Linked DNA regions of Homo sapiens. The protein of the gene in region 2 interacts with the protein of the main gene of each other region in a pairwise test. Each region holds a gene or a part of one and is shown on either strand. Other genes may lie near its edges. The genes, in order: TTC28, HUNK, ARMCX4, MGAT5B, EFNA1, APPL2 and CXXC5.

Region 1 (4,148 bases), on a different chromosome or scaffold from region 2:
TACTGTACCTTCTCTATGTTCAGGTACACAAGTACTTACATTGTGTTATAATTGCCTATAGTATATTCAGTAAAGTATCAGGCTGTAGAGGTGTGTAGCCTAGGAGCAATAGGCTACGCCATACAGCCTAGGTGTGTAGTAGGCTATACAAGGCTATACAAGGTTTGTGTAAATGCACTTTGCTGTTTGCACAATGACGCAATCACCTAAGGAGGCATTTCTCAGAACCATCCCGTGATTAAGAGAGGCATGATCGTACAGTCATCATCTCCCTGAAAGCTCAGTCAACCCTGTGCAGTGCTACTGCCACACTCCCCTTTTGCACATGTAGAAATCAAGGATCTTTGGCTCCTCTGAGTGACTTGTTCAAGGTTTCTCAGTTTTCAAGAGATGGAGGCGGGACTTGAATTGAGATTTCCCTTTCTTGAGAACCTGTGGTCCTTAACCATTAAAACCACTTAAGAGGTCTTCTCTCTTGATCACTACCTACTAAGTGCTAGGCGCGGTGCTGAGGCTTTCTCTTATTATTATATTGAGTCCTTATATTTAGGAGAAACAGGCCGTGCGCGGTGGCTCACACCTGTAATCTCAGCACTTTGGGAGGCCGAGGCGGGAGGATCACGAGGTCAGGAGATAAAGACCATCCTGGCTAACATGGTGAAACCCCATCTCTACTAAAAATACAAAAATTAGCCGGGCGTGGTGGCCGGCGCCTGTAGTCCCAGCTACTGGGGAGGCTGAGGCAGGAGAATGGCATGAACCCGGGAGGCGGAGCTCGCAGTGAGCTGAGATCGCGCCACAGCACTCCAGCCTGCGTGACAGACCAAGACTCCGTCTCAAAAAAGAAAAAAAAAAAAGATTTAGGAGAAACAAGTCCCGAAGCCCTGACCCTAACACGCAAGGGTTAGTGGAGATGTGGGACTTGAACTCAGCTTCTCCGTTGAGTCTGGCTGTCTCCGGGACGCAGGCACGTGCTTGCACACCTCCACGATGGCGATCCCGCCCCCTTAGTAGCGTCCTTAACTCGACACTTCTTGCGGGGAAGTTCCTCTTGGCCCAGACCGTCGTCCCAGGCCCCGCGTCGTGGGGGAAGCGAAAGCGGCAGTGTGGGGAAATGGCCGAGGGGTCGGGTCCGGGGTGGTCTGCAGAGAGGCAGGCGGCGGTGCGGAGCCGGGAACCGCGCGCTCACCCGCCGAGTCCGACGGGCCCGGCGGGGGTGGGCGAGACACTGGGAACAGCGGCCAGCTCCAGAGGGCGCGAGGCGGGGCGCGCGGGGAGGGGGCGCGGCGAACGCGCGCGTGCGCGGTGCATGTGTGGGCCCGCGGGGGCGCGCGCGCGGTTTGGGGGCAGTGAGGGGCGCCGCGGCGGCGCGCAGCACGGCGGGAACATGGCGCGCGGAACCGGCGCGCGCGCCTAGCTGGCGGGACCGTTAGCTCGAGGCGGACGCGGCCCGGGCCCCGTGGGGATGGAGCAGTCGCCGCCGCCGGCGCCCGAGCCGACCCAAGGGCCGACCCCCGCAAGGAGCCGAAGGCGGCGGGAGCCAGAGTCGCCGCCGGCGTCGGCGCCGGTGAGTGCGTGAGGGGCTCGGGCCGGGAGACTTTCTTTGTGAAACTCCGGCGGTGGGAGCCGGGCCGGGCCTCAGCGGCAGAGGAGCGCCTGCGAGGCGGAAGGCGTCTCGCAGTCCGGGTTCGATCCCAGCCGCGAGCCGTGAGGCGGCGGGACCTGGTCCGCCGCCTGCCTGGCTCAGTTTCCGCGAGAGTGTGTGTGGATGTGTGTGGGTGTGTGAGGGTGTGTATGGGTGTTGGCCTGCGCACACCGGGGTGGGGGGTGTCGGTATACAGTCAGCGCCTAATGCGCCCAGCGCCTCCCCTTTTCCCCCAGCCCCCGTGGGGCGGAATCTGGGGACTGGAGTCCACCGGAGCGGTAAGCGGCACCCGCGGTGAGACAGGTGTCGGCGCAGCCCGGGATGCTCAGGTGCTACCTTTCCGGGGTGGGGTTTGTGAGGAGTGAGCTCTTCGTCCCCGGAGGCGAGCAAGTCTGTCGGTGGCTCATCAAAGAGCGTTGTTTTGAAAAGCGTTCCACCCACCTCAGCTTCGTGCTGTGTTTGGGCCACTAGTCAGGGGGAAGGATGCTGAGCGACATGGACTTTAGAGGTGGGGCTCCCGCTGGACGGGATGTCTCTGGGCTCTCGAGCTTACCCCCACCCTTGCCTCCCAAACCCGTTAGAGCGTAGGAATCATTGGGAGCACCTGATCAAAATGCCACGGACTGTGGCTCACCACAGCAGGGAAGCCGATTTTGAACTTAAACAAGCTCCGAAGTTGTGATCAGGCGAGCTTGGCAAGCACTGTTTTAGAGAGTAGGCTTCCTGCAAGCAGGAGCCGGTTTTGTGTATACCTCACCATGGCATCTTGGTACCTGGCATGGTGCCTGACACACTGTAGATGATCAGAAAATATCTGTAGAAAGTCTAAATTATTAGGGAGAGTGCAGCATAGGAGTTCTTGAGACATTTTCAGGAGCTTCTTGAGATTAATATCTCAGATTTATTTTACAGTATATGATTTTTCTCAGCTCCCAACTTTGTGATTGTGTTCAATGCCATGTTTTCAGTATGTTTTAGGCAAAAGCAGGGTACATGTTGCTTAGTATACACTATCCACTAGGCCGGGTGCGGTGGCTCACTCCTGTAATCTCAGCACTTTGGGAGGCAGATTGCTTGAGCCCAGGGGCTTGAGGCTGTAGTGAGCCAAGGAGTTAGAGACCAGTGTGGGAAACATAGCGAGACTCGTTCGTCTCCGCAAAAATTAGCTGGGTGTGGTAGAGTGCACTTGCAGTCTCAGCTACTCTGGAGGCTGAGGTGGGAGGATCGCTTGAGCTCAGGAAGTACAAGTTGCAGTGAGCCAAGGTTGTGCCACTGCATTCCAGCCTGGATAACACAATGAAACCCAGTCTCTTAAATAAGTAAATAAATACATAAATGATTATGTATACTCCAGCTAGGTTAAAATTAATTCTGAATCAAAATTCTAAATTAAAATATGCATGTTTCTTTCTCTTCATCATTTGGGAACACTAGGCTTTTAGGATTTCATTCCATTGGGGCAGGTAAATATCTACATTTATGACAAAGCAAATATGAATTACTGTTAATTCAAGAAAGGTGGGAATTTGCTTAAACCTGAGTATTTGTAGTCTTTGTGATTTTTTAAATTTTTAATTTAAATTTTCTTCTTTTTCTTTTTTTTTTTGAGACGGAGCCTCACTCTGTCTTCCAGGCTGGAGTGCAGTAGCACAATCTCAGGTCACTGCAACCTCCACCTCCCGAATTCAAGCGATTCCCCTGCCTCAGCCTCTGGTGTAGCTGGCATTACAAGTATGTGCCACCATGCCCAGCTAATTTATGTATTTTTAGTAGAGAGGAGGTTTCACTGTGTTGCCCAGGCTGGTCCCAAACTCCTTGACCTCAAGTGATCTGCCCACCTTGGCCTCCCAAAGTGCTGAGATTACAGGTGTGAGCCACGGCACCTGGCCTTATTTTTATTTTTTTGAGACAGAGTCTCAGTCTGTTGCCCAGGTTGGAGTGCTGTGGCATGATCTCCGCTCACTGCAACCTCCACCTCCCAGATTCCAGCGATTCTAATGCCTCAGCCTCTTGAGTAGCTGGGGTTACTAGACCCGGCTAATTTTTGTTGTATTATTTTAGTAGAGACTGGGTTTCCCTATGTTGGCCAGGCTGCTCTGGAACTCCTGGCCTCTGGTGATCCACCTGCCTCGTCTTCCCAAAGTGCTGGAATTACAGGCGTGAGCCACTGCCCCCAGCCAATCTTTGTGATATTTTGAAATTGAGGTTTATATTTTGTTCAGAGTCAAAGCTAAAATAGAATTGTTTGAAAATTAATATTTCAGGAACTATTTTTTAATTAAATTGAATTTTATTTTATTGGTTTCATTTCAGTAGGGTTTTAACTTAATATATATGTGTGTATATATATATATATATATATATATATTTTTTTTTTTTTTTTTTCCTGAGATGGAGTCTTGCTCTGTCACCCAGGCTGGAGTGCAATGGCATGATCTTGGCCTCACTGCAGCCTCCACCCTCCTGGCTCAAGCAATTCTCCTGCCTTAGCCTCCCAAGTAGC
Region 2 (2,545 bases):
GCCGTGCCTTCCTGTGCTGGAGCAGCCAAAGACGTTTCATTTTGAGGGGACACAGCCACAAGTTGGATGTAGCCTGGATCCCTGAGTCACCATATGGAAGACAGCCGTTTTGTGGTCAGCCCAGCCTCATAAAAATATTTTAAGAAATAAACCTTTATTGGGCAAGTCACAGAGATTTGGAATTAATTTGTGATCATAGCAAAGCCTAATCTTCTAGCATACTGGTTGCCAGAGGAGGTGAGCACTGAACACTGATGAAGGAGTCAGGGGAAGGCATTCTCATCTCAGATCTGCCAAGAACTTCACTGCCCTACTTTCGGCAAGAAGACTTGTTCCCAATATAGGCTTGCAATTTGCCCTTTCCAGCTGGCTATGGTAACAAGACTAGAAAGAACACATTTTTAAAAAAAATTATAGAGTTTAAATGTAAACCAAAGCCTTTGCTTTCAAAATTGCTAATAGCCCATCTTCCAAGTAGGAAATACAAAGAGCTGAGGCCCTGAAGTCAGACCCATTTATTTTTTTCACCTGTAAATGATACAGCTTCCTGTGCCATCTTTAAGTTTTAAACCACTCAACTCCAATTGATCCTCAAGTTTGCTCCACATAAAGCTATTCTATCCTTCCAAAATTGGTTGCCCCAAATGCCTCATTATTGGAACACCACCAGCTCAGATGTGGATACATGTGGAGGGGGACTGCAAATCCTGAAATGCTCCTCACCTTCTCTTCCAAAGCCTCCTCAGCTTTCTCCCCCAACCTCAGTCCCTTAGTGCCCACAGACGTCAACTCCTAGAGATAACTGTGTGTCACAAAAACATGTCCACAGAGAAGAAGTACAAATATATATCCTATTTGTCTTTGCAACCAGATGTCTGGAAAGCTCCCTTAACAGAAAAGCTGCCACAAATAATATACTCATTTACTACTCAGGAAATGCACTCCCTTCATTGAAAAGTGATGACATGAAATTGAACCAACTCCCAGTACCGCTCTGAATTATTCTTACTGTGCCTGTAGCTCACAGAAGACCCCACAAAGAAAATAAATACACTAACCAACAGGCTTCCAGACTCCCCCAAAAGATAGCAGTTTTGCATTCTTTCTGAATTTGCTTCAGTGTATGATATGGCTCTATAGGAAATGTTTTATTGATTTAATCTAGTAAAACCCAATAGCCTCTTAATACCTAAAGTAGATAACAAGGCTATCCAGGGGTTTGCTGCTTACTTGGGAAGTCAACTGAGAAAGACAGAGTTCCCAAAGAAAGCTGTCTTTCCCCAGCTTCAAGAGTGGATGGGACAAACAGCATAAGGTTCAGGAAGCTGCACAGTTTTGAAAAGGACTTAAAAATGCAAGACCTAGTCCCTGCAGGAACTTCAGAAATACCTGTTGTGATGACGGCTTGATCTGTTGTTGACATCCCCCTCTGACCATGGCAGCCACTCTCTGATTTCTCTGTGTTCTTTGAGGGAGAAACTCTGCTCCAGACCAGCTCAAATGCCAGCTCATCTGGGGACTCTGGGGTGTCCTTAAACCATCTGGGTCCCTAGTTTTCCCTTCTTCAGAAAGGCTGGGGCTGAGCCAGAGAATCTTAGGTCCTTTTCTATTCTAAAGTGTTGGGATTCTTACAAGAAAACATTGTCATCAAAACTAGATACTTGTTCTTTTCCCCGGAATCCGACTACTGGGGCTTTGCACAGTGAACAGTGAGCTTCTCCACTTTCTAGCTATGTCACCCTCTAAGGCTTCGTCCCCTCACTTCCCAGGGGAAACAAGGTGGTATATATGAAAAACGTTTTGTGAACAGTTATGAAGGAAGCAGTAACTGGGACAATTTCAAGAGGTCATCTAGATCCCACCCTCCCATTCCATCCCATCATCCCTCTTCCCCTATCCATGACCAAGGCCTCCTACAAGGACAAAATCTAGAAGTCACGTTCATAACTGCCATTCTTTGTGTGCCATTTTCAGAGTCTCCAAGGAAGATCCTAATATCCCCAAATGAAAAAGGTTGATTCTTCTTGAACTGCCACCTGCAGTGTGTATGTCAGAAAGACTTTTGTAGGCACACCTATTGCAGGTAAAATAAGGCAGGGAAACTGGCCCAGAAAATGCCCCCCAATGCAATTCCCGCTTGTTTCCAGTCAGATGCTAGGTCAAGAGCTTTACATAAGGCCAGGCACAGTGGCTCACGCCTGTAATCTCAGCACTTTGGGAGGCCAAGGTGGGCAGATCGTTGGAGCCCAGGAGTTTGAGATCAGCCTGAGCAACATGGCGAAACCCCATTTCTACAAAATACAAAAAAAATTAGCTAGGCATTGTGGTGCACAACTGTAGTCCCAGCTACTTGGGAGGCTGAGATGGGAGGATCACTTGAATCTGGAGAGGTTGAGGCTGCAGTGAACTGTGATTGTGCCACTGCACTCCAGCCTGGGTGACAGAGCAAGACCCTGTCTCAAAAAAAGAAAAAGAACTTCACATAAAAGATGGTACCTGTACTATTATTTGCAACGTACTTAGTTGTTTTAAGATTTATCAGCAA
Region 3 (3,500 bases), on a different chromosome or scaffold from region 2:
GTCTCCATCCATGGTCTGAAACCTAAATTTGATCCACCGCTCAGCAGCAATCCAGTCTTCAACACCAATCCCATTCCAGTAGTAGTCATGGATGTTAGGCTGAGTCTTTCTGCAGGCTTGAGTGCCTGACCCACCCTCACTCTCAGAAGTGGGCATGGCCTCAGCCTCAGGCTTTGCATAGGCCTCATCTTCTGCTGTGGCTTCTGCCTCAGAAGTGGACATAGACTTGTCCCTTGCCCCAGGCAAGGTCTCACCCTGGGAACCGGCCACAATCTGAGGCTGGGCAGAGTGCCTTGTGCCTGCCCCAGTCCCTGCTTTAGGCACAGCAATGGTATTGCCCTTGACCTTATTCCTGGCACCAAGCAAGGTCTCACTCTGGGAATTAGCGACAGCTTGGGGCTGGGCAGAGCCCACTGTATCTGCCCCAGCCTCTGCCTTAGGCACAGCATTGGAATTGCCCCTGACCTTATTTTTGGCCCCAGGCAAGACCTCACCCTGAAAACTGGCCACAACCTGGACCTGGACAGAGCCCATTATGCCTGCCCCAGCCTCTGCCTTAGAAATAGCATTGGAATTGCCCTTGACCTTATTCCTGGCACCAGGCAAGGTCTCACGCTGGGAGTTGGCCACAACCTGAGGCTGGGCAGAGCCCATTGTATCTTCTCTGGCCCCTGCCTTAGACACAACATTGGAATTGCCCTTGACCTTATTCCTGGCACCAGGCAAGGTCTCACGCTGGGAGCTGGCCAAAACCTGAGGCTGGGTAGAGCCCACTGTATCTTCTCTGGCCCCTGCCTTAGACACGACATTGGGATTGCCCTTGACCTTATTCTTGGCACCAGGCAAGACTTCACCCTGGGAATTGGCCACAGCCTGGGGCTGGGCAGAGCCCCTTGTATCCATCCCAGCCCCTGCCTTAGACACAGCATTCCAATTTCCCCTGACCTTATTCTTGGCACCAGGCAAGGTCTCACAATGGGAATTAGCCACAGCCTGGGGCTGGACAGAGCCTGTTGCACCCATCCCAGCTTCTGCCTTAGACACAGCATTAAGATTGGCCTTGACCTTATTTTTGGCACCAGGCAAGACCTCACCCTGAGAATTGGCCACAGCCTGGAGCCGGGCAGAGTCTGTTGTATATGGCCCAACCCCTGAATTAGGCACAGTAGTGGGATTGCCTCTGATCTTATTCTTGGCACCAGGCAAGACCTCACCCTGGGAATTGGCCACAATCTGGGGCTGGACAGAGCCTGTTGTATCTGTCCCAGCCCCTGCCTTAGACACAGCATTGGAATTACCCTTGACCTTATTCTTAGAATCAAGCAAGGCCTCACCCTTGGAACTGGCCATAATCTGAAGCTGGGCAGTGCCCATTGCACCTTCCCCAACTTCTGCCTTAAGCACAACATTGGGATTACCCTTAACTTTATTCTTGGTGCCAAGCAAGGCCTCACCCTGGAAACTGACCACTGCCTCAGGCTGGGCAGAGTCTGTTGTACCTTCTCCAGCCCCCACCTTAAGCACAGTATGGGGATTGCCCTTGACTTTATTCTTGGCACCAGGCAAGGCCTCACCCTGGGGATTGGCCACAACCAGGGGCTGACCACAGACCCTCTGGTCTGCCTTAGTCCCGGCTTTAGAAGTGGCATTAGGATTGCCCCTACCATCAACCCTGGAATCAAGCAAGGCCTCAGCTGGGGTCTTGACCCCAGCCTGAGGTTGTGTACAGGTTTTCATGTCCATCCCAGGCCCTGTCTTACACTTGGCTTTGGCTTTGCCCCTAGCCTTACCTCTAGTATTAGGTAAGGCTTCACCCTGGCTCTGGGCCATACCTTGAGCCTTCATATCCACCCCAGCTCCTTCCTTAGGCATGGTATTGACATTGCCCCTGACCTTAATTTTGCCATCAGACAAGGTATCAGCCTGAACACTGGCCACAAGCTGAGGCTGTGTACAGGACAACATGTCTGTCCCATCCCCCACCTTAGCCATAACATTGGGATTGCCTCTGCTCTTATCCCTGGCATCAGGCAAGGCCTCAACCTGGGAATTGGCCCTCAAGTTTGCCTTGGCCCCTGCTTTAGTCATGGCATTGGGATTGCCTCTGTTCTTAACCTTAGCATCAGACATGGCCTCAGCGTGAGTACTGGCAACAGCTTGAGGCTGAGCAGCAGCTCTCATGTCAGCTCCAGTTATTGCCTTAGATATGACATTGGTATTTCCCCTACCATCAACCCTGGCACCAGACGTCACCTCAGCCTGTTTCTTGGCCACAGTCTGAGGTTGTATACAAGCTCTCACATCTGCCCCTGCCCCCACCTTACACATGGCATTGGTGTTACCCCCGGCATCAATCTTTGCCCCAGGAATGGCCTCAGTCTGGGTTTTGGCAAAAATTTGAGGCTGAGCAGAAGCCCTCGTGTCTGCCCCAGACTCTGCCCTAGACATGGTTTTACAATTCCCCATGTCCTCAACCCCAGTACCAGGCATGTCATCACCCTGGATCTTGGTCACAGCCTGAGACTGTGCACAGGACTTCATGTCCACTCCAGCCACCTCCCTGGACATGCCATTGGGATTTCCCCTAGCATCAACTGTGGCACCAGGCCTGGCCTCAGACTGAGTCTTAGCCACACTCACAGTCTCTTCCAGAGCTCTTGTCTTGGTTTCATCCACAATTCCAGTCTTGTTCGTGGCCCCCATCTTGGCCACTTCCCTGGGTACTGCCAAGGTCTCACTCTGTGTAACCATTACTCTGTTAATCTCTGTCTCTTTTTCAGCCAATATATGAGTTTCAGCTTTGGTCTGGGTCATTGCTTCTCTCTTGGCCTCTGTCTTGGCAACCAGCGCCCAAGCTTTAGCCTTGGTCTGTGTCACTGCTTCTTTCTTAACTATTTTGCCAGCCTCAGCATCAGTTTGGGTCACTGCTTCTTTCATGGCCACTTCCCTGGCTTTGGCCTTGACCTCAGTCAGAGTCACTGCCTCTGTCATGACCAGTGTTCCAGCCACCACTTTGGACTCAGATTGAGTCTCTGGCTCTGCCCCAACCATTGCCTTGGCCTGAGAGTTGGCTCTGTGTATGGCTATAGCAGTGGCCTTGGTCTCTACTTCAGCCCTAGGCCCACTTCTTGCTCCAGTTTCTGCTCCAATCTCGACTTGGGGTTTAGTCTTAATCTCTGCTTCATTTATGGCCAAGGTCTGGCTCTGTACCCCAACCACAGTCTCCATCTTAACTGTGGATCCATTTCTGGCAAGAGTCCTCACACTCTGGGCTCTTCCCTTGGTAAATTTGTAAATGTAGTAGCAGGTGCCAGCCCAGATCACCAGTCCTGCAGTCACCCAGCCCACTTCCTGAATGCGGCCCATGTAATCACCCCTGCTAAAAGCACGAACAAGGTATGGTAGAGCGCACTCGGGCTGGGGTAAAGAGAGTGGTAGTTGTGGGTGTAGGCCTGTGAGGGTGCTGGTCTTCAGCCACTCAAAGGCCACTACAGCTGCCT
Region 4 (3,500 bases), on a different chromosome or scaffold from region 2:
GCATCAGGCACAAGCCCCTCCTCACTCTCACCCAGCCCACACATGTGCACCTACACACACCAGCACCCACGTTCGCTGGAGACCCAGGGTGTTCTGCCCCCTTGCTACTCGAAGCGTTGCCCCGCATTAACAGACGCTCTGTATGCACATTATATTTTGAAATGTGCTGTGTAAAGGCTGCAAAGCCACACCTGCAGCAGTTTCAAGAACCTCCACACATCCATCGTGAAAACATTCAGTTAGCACCTGGCCCTCAAAAGTGCTCCATAAACAATTTGAGATCCAGGGCTGCCATGTAAGGTTGTGCAGGTTGCTCACTGCACAAAGGCATTCCCCACACATCACACCTGAGTAGATGAATGGGATCCCCCATTCCATTCTCCAATCCACATGCCCTGGCTCAGGGCTGTGTCTGACCAGGGGAGGGATGGACACCTTTGCCAACCCAGGCCTGCAAGTCTGAACTCACCCAGAGGGGGGCACCGTTTTCTAATCAGAGTGAAGACCAGCAGTGTGGACTAGTGGGGGGTCTCAACTGTATGTGGCTGCTCTCACCTGAGTTCTCATAATGGCCTTGATGGCTGCTTCAAACTCCTCTGAGTTGTTGTAGTCGACTGTCCACACGTGGGGCTTGCCGATGAAGTTCTCCGCGTAGGGATGCTGGGAGAACACCTGGCAAGGGTACAGAGATTGCAGATGCCCCCCGTGCCTGCCAGTGGGACAGGGACAAAGAAAGGTACCCCATACACTTGTCCTATCTCCTTTTGCCCCACATCTCAGTCTGCCTCTTCCAGGACCTGCAGGGGTCTCTGTCCCGGCCCCTCCTGATCGGGGACCAGGATGCTTTCCACTCACCTCTCTGGAGGTGGGCTTGCCTCGGAAGAACTCGTGGTTGAGGGAGCTGTGGGGCGGGCTGAAGCGGGACTGCAGGAAGATGCAACCATTGGCGATGGCCTCCAGGGGGGCGGGGCCCTCGTAGGGGAAGCCAAACCCGATGAAGAGCTGCAGAGTCAAGGGGCGCAGTGATCAGGGAGGGCTGGGCCGCCACAGCCCAGTAAGCACCAGGATGCCGGGGACAAGGTGAGGCTTCGGGATATTCACAGGAGGCAGCTGGGCCTGGAGCGATTATTTTTGCTCAGCCTGTTATGTGAGCTATAACAGGGCTGGAAAAGCCAGCCCAGAACATCTTGTGCCACGGGCAAGCACTTCCCCTCTCTGGGCCTCAGTTTCCCCATTTGTGAAATAAGGGGGTCTAATTAGGTATTATCAATGGTCTCTTCTTGCTCTATCAGGCTATGATTTATGATTGTGGAGGGAGGAAGAAAAGAACAAGGGTTTCAGGCCAAGAAAGCTGCAGGCCCGCACCTGCAAGAGACCTCCAGGAACCTCACTCACTCATCCCAAAAACATTTATTCAGCATCTAACTTGTGTGAGGCTATTTACAACAGCAAAGACATGGAACCAACGGAGGTGCCCATTAACGGTGGCTTGGATAAAGAAAGTATGGTACATAGACACCATAAGATACTACGCAGACATAAAAAAAAACAAAATCATGTCCTTTTCAGCAATATGGATACAGCAGGAGGCCAATATCCTAAGTGAATTAAAGCTGGAACAGAAACCAAATACCGCATATTCTCACTTATAAGTGGGAGCTGAACATTGGGTACTTATGGGCATAAAGATGGCAACAACAGACACCTGGGGACTCCCAGAGTGGGGAGGAGGAAGGGGGTAAAGACGGAAGAATTAACTACTGGGTACTATCCTCACTACCTGGGTGACAAGATCCTTCATATCACAAACCTCAGCATTATGCAATATACCCAGGTACCAAGCCTGCATATGTACCCCTTAAACCTAAAATAAAAGTTGAAAAAAAATTTTGAGACGGAGTCTTGCTCTGTCACCAGGCTGGAGTGCGGTGGCACCATCTCATCTCACTGCAACCTCTGCCTCCCGGGTTCAAGCAATTCCCCTGTCTCACCCTCCTGAGTAGCCAGGACTACAGGCGCCCGCCACCACACCCAGCTGATTTTTTGTTTGTTTGTTTGTTTGTATTTTAGTAGAGACAGGGTTTCACCATGTTGGCCAGGATGGTCTCGATATCCTAACCTCGTGATCCGCCCACCTCGGCCTCCCAAAGTGTTGGGATTACAGGTGTGAGCCACCGCACCTGGCCAAAATTATTATTTTTTAAGTAACTTGTGCTAGGAGTGCACAGGGCTGGCCTCAAAGGCACTTAATAAATGATTCTGAATCCAGGGCTGTTCTGTGAGGTTGTTCAGGTTATTCACTGCATGCAAGCATCTCCACTGCCCCCAACACACACACACACACACACACACACACACACACACACACACACACCCCCAAGATGCCTTGGGAAACAAGCTATGGTGAGATCAAGAGAGGGCCTGGGGCCAGGTGCAGTGGCTCACATCTGTAATCCCAGCACTTTGAGAGGCCGAGGTGGTAGGATCGCTTAAGCCCAGGAGATTGACACCAGCCTGGGCAATGTAGGAAGACACCATCTCTACAAAAAATTTAAAAATTAGCCAGGTGTGGTGGTGTATGCCAATAGTCCCAGCTACTCGGGAGGTGGAGGTGAGGGGACTGTGTGAGCCTAGGAATATAAGGTTGCAGTGGGCCCTGATTGCACCACTGCACTCCAGCGTGGGTGACAGAGCAAGACCCTGTCTCATAAAAAAGAGGGTGAGGGGGTGCCTAGAAGCTGGCTGGAGACTCTCCAGCCTCAGCTGATACTCCAGGGTCCAGTCAGGGTTTTGCCCACTGTGTCAACTGCTGCTCCAGCAGTACAGCTCAGGGACCCCTGAAGCAGTCACTCAGGACTAGTGGCTCAATGGCACTCTAGCCAGGACCCTTCTCTCCACCCACCCAACCACCCCCCAGCTCAGTGTCTCCAAAAGCTAGGCCTGACCCAGGAGTCCATTTGGCTGGACTGGTACTGCAAGGGGGAGGATGGGCAGTCCAACTCTACTTCCCCATCACTGAGCCACGGCTCTGCTGCTCTGCTGGCCCTGCCCAGGTCCCTTTCTCTATAGGACCTCTCCTGCCTGGTGGGCACCCACATCTCTGCCCCTGGGCTCTGGCCAGATGTGGGGCTCAGGGCAGCAGAGCATGCTGGGGTATGTCCATATGTGGAAGGGGCCTGAGTGGTGGTGGCAGGCATGGGTGGTGACCTCAGTGTCTGCAGCCGGCAAGTGTGAGAATGGTGCGGGGGATGGGAGCTCACTTTGGCCTTGCGCAGCAGCTGCTGAAACTCAGGCTGCGGTAAGAGGCCGTGGTTCTTCACAAAGGCTGGCACCTCGGGGGGCCGCTGGCTCTCGTAGTACACGGTGCCATGGATCTCCATGTATTTGTTCAGGATGCCCAGGAACTTCTCCTTCCCCTGGAAAAAGAAGAGGAGGAGATGGGAACCACATGCAAACCACAGAAGGCAAAGTCCATGGAGGAGATCCCTTTGGTCTGGAAG
Region 5 (4,228 bases), on a different chromosome or scaffold from region 2:
TCCCGTTCTAGCTACTCAAAGTTATACACTGGTCTCCTTTTCCCCTTCTCAGAGCACCCCAAAACAACCCTGTCCTTTTATCTCTAAAAGCCACACTTCCACCTCCCCCTAGATGAAATGCTGGAGCTCTGAGCTTGAGCTTGAGACAGCCTCTCCCCTCTCCCCTCTCTCCCCTCTCTCCTCCTCTCCCCCTCTCCCCTCCTCTCCCCTCCTCCCAAGGTGGAGCCAGCACCCCTCCCCTAGTTCATTCCCCCTGGCCCCACCGGCTCCAGCCTGACTGCCCACCAGCCCCTCCCCACCAGCTCCAGACACCTGGCTCCAGCCTGGGTGGGGTCCCAGTAGGGGGAAAAGTGCTTCCCCCGACCCCGCAAGCTGGTCAGTTTCTCTAATTCCCCCAGGCACTGCCAGCTAGAGACCCAGCAGAATTAGCGCTAAGTTGCTTCGAACTGAAAGCCCTGGCCACGGCTGGGAGGGCGAGGAAGGAGTCAGGCAGAGAGGACTCGGAGGTGGGCACCCACTGCCCAATCAGCATGACCCCTGAGAGGCCAGGCTTTGCAGCAGCGTGCCAGCGCCCAAACTGGGCTTACCAGGCCCCTCCCCCACCCTGGGGAAAAGAGAGGAGCAGAGAGAGGCTTTTAAAATTCCTCTCTGGAGAGATAAACATAGAAGCCATTTCAGAACAGGTATTTCAGCTCTGGGCCTGGCGTCTTTCCCTCATTCCCGTGACGGGCACTGACTCATTCCTCATCCACCTCTGCTACCCGCCCCAGCACTCATGAGAACTTGTGAAAACTTACCTTGTCAAATGTGCACAGCCCCCAGGACCCCAGGAGGGCACAGCGCCCACTCACCCCCAACAGTGTCCTCCAAACAAAGGGAGCTGGCAGGTCAGAATGAGGGGCCTGCCCTCCAGCATGAGGGAGGCTGGCGCCCTTCTCAGCATGCTGCCCCCGCCTGAGGCCTGGAGATCCCAGGGCTGCTGCCCACTGGCCTGAGTCACCCATGCCAGCCTCACCTACCCCGTTCATTGTAGCCTCATATTTGCCCCCACGCTGGGCCCAGCTTGGCTGCCTACGGACTCTACTCTGGACTGGCGTCTCTTTAGTCCTGGGTATGATAGGGTGTGCGTGTGTGTGTGTGTGTGTGTGTGTGTGTGTGTGTGGCCAGAGGGTCACCCATCAGCCCCCTCTCCTGGGGGTACAGTCTGCTGTACTTAGCCTTCATTTGACTCTTGCTCCCCATCTGGGAAAGGGGGGCAGCGGCGTCAGGGAAGGCGGGGAGGTGGGTAAGGAAGAGGCTCCTTCCTGAAAGAGAGGAAACCTGGGAGCTTGGGAACGGAAAAGGCCAGGGTCCCCCCCTCCCTACTCATGGCTTCCTGTCCCCTCCTCCTCCTCCAGTCAACACCTGGCATGGGCATAAACAGGGACTTTGCTCTCTCCCATACTAGGGCGAGATGCATCAGGTCAAGGAGGCAAAGCACAGGGAGCGGGTGGCGGAGGGCTGGCTGAGCCTCCCCAGCGTCCATGGGCAGGAGGGCATTGCCCTCTGGGGTTGGCAGCTGGCTGTTCTCTCCCCCACCCTAACAAGCCACAGACAACAGACTGCCTCACCAGACGATGACACGGGGTCAGAGGAAGCTGGCACAACATATTTCTCAAGGGGAGTGGGGGGCAAGCTTGCTAGGGCCGAGAGTGGCTAAGCCGGTGAGATGGCTTTCGTGATACCAAGCTGCCCACTTCTCTCCCTGCTCCTCCCTACCACCCTCTCCTGTATTCCCTCAAATATTGTTCCCATAACTTCAGAAAACTCAAGGGCAAGAACAAAGGGGCCGACAGAGTCTTCCTCCCAGTACCATTTGCCTCACAGCCCTAAACCTGCCCAGGAGAAATTAACTCCTTCCTGCCCAGAACCTTCTGTAACCCCTTTAACCTCTTCTGTTCATTCTGAAGCTTTCCCATGATCTCCCTCTCCCAGCTCTTCGCTTTTACTACTTGAGAGCCCCATAAACAGGTGATTCCCTCAGCCTACCCATGCACAGCATGTGCCTCACTCATGCCACCCCAAAAGACCCCTAGTGAGGGACTTTCCAGGTTTGCTTTAAATACAGGGTGAATGCATAATGAATGCCTACAGCCCAGCTCTCTCCTGAGAGGTCCTTCCAGGGTTACCTTGAGCATTCTGTGCACTCTTGATGTCACACCAGGTATCTGTCAGTGTGGTCAGATACCCAAAGGACACACAAGGAGAGGCGTGGAGGCTTTCACAGTGGGGGGGTGGGGGGCCTGGAACAAGGGCCCTGGCTGCCAGGGGCGAAGTCTATGCTGAAGGCAGGAACTGCCCAGCATGAGTCCCTCACTTTAGAGTAATAGGGGTGCCAGAGAGAAGGAAGGGAAGGGCAGATATAAGCCCATGCAAGTAGACACAAGCATGCCCCGGGGTGGGGTGCTCCCAGATATGACGGAGAAGTGAGGGGAGGAAAATCTACAGCCGCCCTCCTACCTCGGTCATCTACTCTAGGCTCAGCTCAGGGTTTGGCCGGGACAGTTATCCCGGTGGGGTAGTGCCAGCCGGGAGCCCAGGCTGCCAGCGGGAGTCTCGAGGCTTACTTGGGATTTGAACTGTTCCAGAAGACGGTGTGGCGATCAGCAGCGGCCAGACTGCAGCACAGACCCAAGAGAGGGGCCCAGAGGAACTCCATAGCGCGGGGCCTGGCCAGGCCGAGCGGGGACGCGGGTCTCCTATGGGTCTGGGTTCCCACTGGCTTTCTCCGCGGCGCAGTCAGCGCTGGGCTCACAGATCTGGCCCCTTCGCCTAGCGACTCCGCCTTTTGGGCCGGCGCCGCCCGACACCCCGCCCCGCCCTCGCCCCGCCCGGCGCGCGGCTGCCTGGGGGCTTGGGGGCTGGGGAGGTGGAGGAGGGGCGGGGTGGGGAGGCGAGGAGGCTGGGGGTGCAGGAAAGAGCGAAGCGCGCTCCTCTGCCCCCGCAGATCTGCTCAGAGATGTGTGTTCGCTCACTTGTGGGTCTGCGTGGAGCTTTGTGAGCCTGTCCCGGTGGTGGGCTTGCGTCCCTGGGCGCAGTCGCGTGCGGGAGAAGGGAAGAACTCGCAAGTGCGAGTCTGCGAACGCGGGGGTGCGGGACACGGCTTTGCTGCTCCGCGCGCGGACCTTGCAGGGTGCGAGGTTGTTGACATGCCCCGCACCTTTCTGAGCCTCGCATGCCCAGGCTCGGGCGCCCGCGTTCCCACACTCTCCTCCTCCCCCATCCCCTTCCCGGACTCTGCGCTTGACTGCCCCTCCCCACACACACGCGGCTGTTTGTTTTTGTTGGGTTTGTCAATGTTGTCTTTGTTCTGGAGATTGTGTCATCGCCTAGATGCCGGGAATAAAGTGCAACGCTTTGTGTGATCGAGTGTGTAACGTGTGCGGCCGGGGCTAAGGACGCCTCTGTCCATCACATCAGTGCCTGCCCGCAGGAGCGACACGCGGGACCCTGGGCTCGAGAGGGGGCCGTTCTTATTTTAGATAAGTCAAAGAGCGCTAATAACCTGAGTATATGTAACAACACACGCGTACACCGTGCGAACAGGCTCTTGAATATGGACTGTGAGAATCTGGGCATGAAGGGTGACAAACTGTAACCACACATGAAATACGTGTGATGGCGCGCTAGCATGAAAGCATTTGTGAGTAGTATCACAGCCGCGTGTGTGGAAGCGTGTGAAACTCTTTGACAGACGTATGCTAATGTTTGTGAACAGCGTGTGAAGAGGAGGGGAGACGCGTACCGGCGTGCAGCGGGGGTGGGGTGGAACGGAGGGGCGTTTGTGCGCAGTCCTCAGGCTGCACAGCTGGAGCTGGCCCAGTCTGAGCTGGGGCTCCCAGTCAGTCGGGCCCCAGTACCCGGCTCAGGCCCCCTCCCCCGCGCTGTGTAAACAAACCCACTGGAATTTGCCTCTCGGGGCTCTTCTCCCCGCCTGGATCTGCTGCCGTCTGGAGAGGGCTTGGCGGGCGGGTGTCAGCTCCTGGGGTGGAGAGGGCGGGCAGGTGTTTGATTAGGCTCACGAGTGAGCCTGGAGTGGGAGAGCCGAATGCTGTGTGTCTGCGTGCGTTTGGTGGTTTACGTGTGTGGTTGTGTGGCTGTGTGCGCGCCAGGTTGGTGTTGTGAGTGTGTGTGCGCATCCTCAGCCGGCCCTTCCCTGCGGCTGCGCATCGCGGGAAGCCACGGACCC
Region 6 (2,187 bases), on a different chromosome or scaffold from region 2:
ATTCTTGTGCCTCAGTCTCCCGAGTAGCTGGGACTACAGGTGTGCACCACCACACCCGGCTAATTTTTGTATTTTTAGTAGAGATGGGGTTTCACCATGTTGGCCAGGCTGGTCTTGAACTCCTGACCTCAGGTGATCCTCCTGCCTCTGCCTCCCAAAGTGCTGGGATTACAGGCATAAGCCACCATGCCTGGCCTGCTTTTGTCTTATGATAGCAGAGTTGAATCTGTTGCAAGGGAGATAGCCAAAAACATAAAGACCCTTTATAGAAAAAGTTTGCCAACTTTTGACCAATACCATTAAATACTAGCTTACAGTGCTTGCCACTATTTCATGTATGTGGCCTTAGTCCTTGGTCTTTCTGACCTCTCCAAGACTGAACTGCACTAATATGGTAGCCACTGGCTACATGTTACTATGTAAATTTGAGTTAAATTTAAAAATCCAGTTCCTCAGTCACACTTGCCATATTCAATCTGCATATTAAATTGTGCAGATATAAATCATTTCCATTATTGCAGAAAGTTCTGTACATTGCTGAACTAGAAGCCCCCTGGGGGCAGGGACTATATCTGTCTTGTTCAATTACACAAACTAGGCTCTCAAAAATTTGCTGAATGAACAAAAGATTAAAAGCTGCTGAAAGACAGGGAGGTCTCAGAATCCTCATTTCTTAAAAGCTCCCAGGTGACGTCTGTCAATGCTGTGGGGCATGTGATCATACTCTGAGGAGCAAGGCCTTAGAGCAGCACACGGTGGGTACTTATCTATCATCTTAATCTGAAAGAGGAAATCTAGCCAACTAGTATGCAAGCAAGAAAACAGATAAGCAGGAGCTCCAGCAGTGATAAGAAGTCCTCATGTGTTAACAGTGAACATGGAACTAGCTGATCAAAAACCTCTGGTGGTTAGAATACTTTTAAAAGGAAATCCCAAACTTGGCCACACTTTCCAGTGAACATCACTTTTCTTTTTGAAAAGACTCTTGGTATGTGTACACAGATGTGTTTTGAGTAGCTACTAAACCAGCGCTAGAATGCATCTTACCTTCTGAACCTCAATAATTTCTTTTCCCAAATTAATAGCATAACATATCTGCAAAAGACAAGAAAAGTAGTGATTGGCAAAAGTAGAGAAGGATAAAATTTTAGAACAAATGTGATTTGGGAGTACAGTGAGGTCACTGTTCTCACTGTTCCCACTTGGGAACACAGGACCTGGCTGCAGGAGACTCATCACATAGGGCCCGGGGCATTTGCGTCCAACTGTCCTGACCTCTGTTGCCAATTTATGCCACACAAAAAATATTCCAGGTAAGTGAAACTCAGGTAATTCCAGTGTTAAAAGTTCTTAATAGGAATTTTTCTTCTCTCTCTTAAATGTATTTAGCCACGATATGTCCATATACACAGTGGCAAACAGATAATTTACTGAAAGGATTGGTTAATTGTGATAAATTCTAAGTAGCAGATAGAGTCAAAAGTTTTTCATACTAAACCAACAGCTTGTGTGTAACTTTTCTAATATCTTCCTTGGTTTTCTCTCTGAGACTAAATTATTCTCTATTGTAGCTTTTGCCTTAATTTTTTTTAAAGAACAAATTTGAGGGGAACTGCTTTCAACATTTCCTTATATCCCGACTAAATAATATGTCTTGCCATGAAATTTCTTCCTCATTCACCCTATTCTGGTTGATAGGTATTTTCCACAGAGAAATTTAAATCGAGTTTTCTTTCAGTGAGGCCTTCTTAGGAGGTATTATCTGAACTCCTGGATGGAGACATGCAGAATAATCAACTAAATATCCAAGGAAGTAATGCCAGAAAACTCTTTTAAAATGGACTTGTTTGGACTGGGATATTATGGGATCTTCACATGAAAAAGAGACCTTTTCGCCTTCTGAGTTGCTTTCAAAAATGTATGTACTCAGAGATTCTTCTCCAGTGGATTCAGGAACACGGATGACAAAACCAACCAGTCTCTTGTTTTCTTGATGAGCAGCAAATTGTGTGACACTGGTAAGTTCAAACTGGGGGGTGGAAAAAAAGGCAACAGATCATACAACTACTAGAATTAAAAACTGACAAGGCTACTCTCTGGAAAAGTCATGAGAAAAAGTATCCTATTAGTCCTATTAGTGGCAGATCTTTATTAATAAAGTGCCTAGGCTGTGTTTAAGGTAGATAC
Region 7 (2,517 bases), on a different chromosome or scaffold from region 2:
TGAAACAGAATCCCTTAAACAGGGCAGGGGAGAGACCCAGAGTTCTAGGTCATGGACTGGATGCTTTAGGCCATGTCTGAGCATCAGAAACTTAGGACCTGTATGGAAATCTCAATACCTGACCCAGAACCCAGGAGAGGAATCAGAATCCCAGGGCCTGGCTGAGAATGCTAGGTCCTTGCCTGGAGTTTTATGCTTGCCTTGCAAATTATGGCCTGATAGGATTCTCAGAATGTGGCTCTGACTTTTGGGGCAGTAAACTGGTGTCTTGAAGCCAGACCCCCAGGCCCCAAGGACTGGGAGGGGGCATCCCCCAGACACTTGCCCAGGTAGGAAAAGTGGGGTCAGGGGATGGGGGTGGGTTTGGACTGCCAGACAGACACAAGAGCCCACACACCTCCCTCTAAGGCGCCGTTACCTCCAGAGCAGCGGAAGGCTTCTTTTTGAGTTCCTCACATTTTCTGAATTTGCAAATCTGATGGCCAGTCTTTCGATTCCTACAACTGCTGCACTGCTCGCAGTTGATGCGCCGCCGGCAGGGCGCGCACATGCCGCAGCGTTTCCGCTTCTTCTTGCCGGAGCTGATGGCAGAGGCCAGCTCTCCCTGCATGGGGTACTCAGCCAGGCCCGCCATGTGCAGCGCGCTCTCGGCCAGGAACACACCTGCCGGGGTCATAATGAAGAGGCCTGGGTTGATGGGGAAAGCGCCCAGGTAGGGGAAGTCGGACTGGCCATTGAGGGCTTCGGCACCTGCCACAGCCTCCATGTCAGGCAGGCCAGCACCCGCCTCGCTCATCAGCGGGAGATGCTCCTGCACCACGCGCTTCAGCATCTCTGTGGACTGCGCAAACTGCTGCAGCGTCAGCTGTCCCTCGGCTGCCAGCTCCGTGGCCCGCTCTGCCTTGCTCAGCAGGCTGGCCACAGCACCACTTTTGTGCTTTGAGGTAGGGTTGCTTTTGTCCACCGCCATGGCCGCCGCCAGGTCATGCCCATTGGCCAACAGGGAGGCAGCGGCTGCAGCCGCAGTGGCCTTGTCAGCAGACTCTCCGCCCATCATGCTGCCACCGCCACTACCACCACTGCTGCCAAAAGAAGAGTAGTGGGAGAGCGGGCGGGAGCGGCGCAGGCTCTTGTTGAGGGGCTCACTGATGATACCGCTCTTGTTCCGACGCTCGGGGGGTGGTGTGTCATCTGCCACTGAGGCTGGTGCGGCGGCAGCCACCACTGCACTCTTGTCTGCTGCTCCTGCCTTTGGGCCACTGCTGCCACTGCCACCGCTGCCATTGGTGCTGCTGCTGCTACTGCCGCCGGCATCCTGGGAGCCACCGCCGAGGCTCGACATGGTGGGGCCGAGGCCCAGACCCCACTGCAGAGGGAGCCTGCCAACTGCCGAGGGTCCACAGACCAGGACCTGGCCCTGCTGCCCACAACAGAGATGCCTGGTGGGCCTCGCTGCTCAGGGCAGGCACATGGTCAGGTGTCCAGGTGGAAATGTCTTCACTCTGTCACAAGAGGATACAGGGTCAGGGCAGCAGTGAACACCTCCCCCTTCAACATCGCCACCACCGCCACTATCAACGGTCCTGTCATCCTGACCACCATGTGCTTGACCAGGCATTTATTAAGCACCAGATCCATCCTGGTGAGAAATTTCTTATTTGTACTATCTCAGTTAAGACCCACAAGAACTCTAGAAGCAGTGGCTGGTAATCTACTTTATAGATGAGGGAAACAAGATTTAGGAGAACTACCAGTCTATGAACACACAGCCACCAAGCGGCATGGTGGAGGCCCTAGTCCAGGCCTCCACAGCCCAAATCTGCTCTGCTAGGGTCTAGGAAGACCTGCCAGAAGCAGGCAGTCCTTCTTGTGCTGGGGTGGGAGAGTGTTGGAGATGCTTATTAGCTGGGTGCAGTGGCTCACACCTGTAATCTCAGCACTTTGGGAAGCAGAGGCAGGCAGATCGCTTGAGCTCAGGAGTTTTGAGACCACCCTGGACAACATGGTGAAACTCTATCTCTGCAAAAAATACAAAAGTTAACCAGGTGTGGTGGTACATGCCTGTAGTCCTAGCTACTCAGGAGGCTGAGGTGGGAGGACTGCTTGAGCCCAGGAGGTTGAGGATGCAGTGAGTTATAATCATGCCACTGCATTCCAGCCTGGATGACAGAGTGAGATCCTGTCAAAAAAATAAAAATAAGAAAAAAACCACCTCCACATCCTAATCTTCCTTCTCCATCTGAGGAGAAGAGTGCTTGATGGTACAGATCATTAAGTCTGGAAGGCTGCCCCTGGATCCTCATCTGGGGATTACTAATACACATCAGTTATTTCAAGGCTCTGACATGTCCTGCAGGCAAAGGAACCTGGTTGCCTTTGTGTAACCCAGTTTGCCAATGAGTGCAGAACCCTTATTTCAGGGATCTTCTCCCCGCCTGCTACAGGGCGAGCAGCACAGGGCCAGAGGACCAGCCGTCCCCTGCCACAGTGAGAGGACATGCTTGTGCACACCCTGGC

What was found.
Region 1: the proteins of HUNK (region 2) and TTC28 interact in a two-hybrid assay, tested with the Homo sapiens proteins (one large-scale study listed by BioGRID and IntAct).
Region 3: the proteins of HUNK (region 2) and ARMCX4 interact in a two-hybrid assay, tested with the Homo sapiens proteins (one large-scale study listed by BioGRID and IntAct).
Region 4: the proteins of HUNK (region 2) and MGAT5B interact in a two-hybrid assay, tested with the Homo sapiens proteins (one large-scale study listed by BioGRID and IntAct).
Region 5: the proteins of HUNK (region 2) and EFNA1 interact in a two-hybrid assay, tested with the Homo sapiens proteins (one large-scale study listed by BioGRID and IntAct).
Region 6: the proteins of HUNK (region 2) and APPL2 interact in a two-hybrid assay, tested with the Homo sapiens proteins (one large-scale study listed by BioGRID and IntAct).
Region 7: the proteins of HUNK (region 2) and CXXC5 interact in a two-hybrid assay, tested with the Homo sapiens proteins (one large-scale study listed by BioGRID and IntAct).

The regions. Positions count from the first base shown.
Region 1 is NC_000022.11:28,677,041-28,681,188, reverse strand, and holds the start of TTC28 (tetratricopeptide repeat protein 28), read left to right. Parts: upstream 1-1,348; 5' UTR 1,349-1,465; coding exon 1,466-1,567; intron 1,568-4,148. UniProt on the Homo sapiens protein: During mitosis, may be involved in the condensation of spindle midzone microtubules, leading to the formation of midbody.
Region 2 is NC_000021.9:32,002,020-32,004,564, reverse strand, and holds the end of HUNK (hormonally up-regulated neu tumor-associated kinase), read right to left. Parts: 3' UTR 501-2,545; downstream 1-500.
Region 3 is NC_000023.11:101,488,456-101,491,955, reverse strand, and holds part of ARMCX4 (armadillo repeat-containing X-linked protein 4), read right to left. Parts: 5' UTR 3,367-3,500; coding exon 1-3,366.
Region 4 is NC_000017.11:76,937,904-76,941,403, reverse strand, and holds part of MGAT5B (alpha-1,6-mannosylglycoprotein 6-beta-N-acetylglucosaminyltransferase B), read right to left. Parts: intron 3,417-3,500; coding exon 3,261-3,416; intron 1,003-3,260; coding exon 856-1,002; intron 673-855; coding exon 556-672; intron 1-555. UniProt on the Homo sapiens protein: Glycosyltransferase that acts on alpha-linked mannose of N-glycans and O-mannosyl glycans.
Region 5 is NC_000001.11:155,126,448-155,130,675, reverse strand, and holds the start of EFNA1 (ephrin-A1 isoform a precursor), read right to left. Parts: upstream 2,801-4,228; 5' UTR 2,699-2,800; coding exon 2,607-2,698; intron 1-2,606. UniProt on the Homo sapiens protein: Cell surface GPI-bound ligand for Eph receptors, a family of receptor tyrosine kinases which are crucial for migration, repulsion and adhesion during neuronal, vascular and epithelial development.
Region 6 is NC_000012.12:105,174,988-105,177,174, forward strand, and holds part of APPL2 (DCC-interacting protein 13-beta), read right to left. Parts: intron 2,030-2,187; coding exon 1,889-2,029; intron 1,096-1,888; coding exon 1,048-1,095; intron 1-1,047. UniProt on the Homo sapiens protein: Multifunctional adapter protein that binds to various membrane receptors, nuclear factors and signaling proteins to regulate many processes, such as cell proliferation, immune response, endosomal trafficking and cell metabolism.
Region 7 is NC_000005.10:139,679,349-139,681,865, reverse strand, and holds part of CXXC5 (CXXC-type zinc finger protein 5), read right to left. Parts: intron 2,020-2,517; exon of another isoform or gene 1,926-2,019; intron 1,503-1,925; 5' UTR 1,343-1,502; coding exon 419-1,342; intron 1-418. UniProt on the Homo sapiens protein: May indirectly participate in activation of the NF-kappa-B and MAPK pathways. Acts as a mediator of BMP4-mediated modulation of canonical Wnt signaling activity in neural stem cells.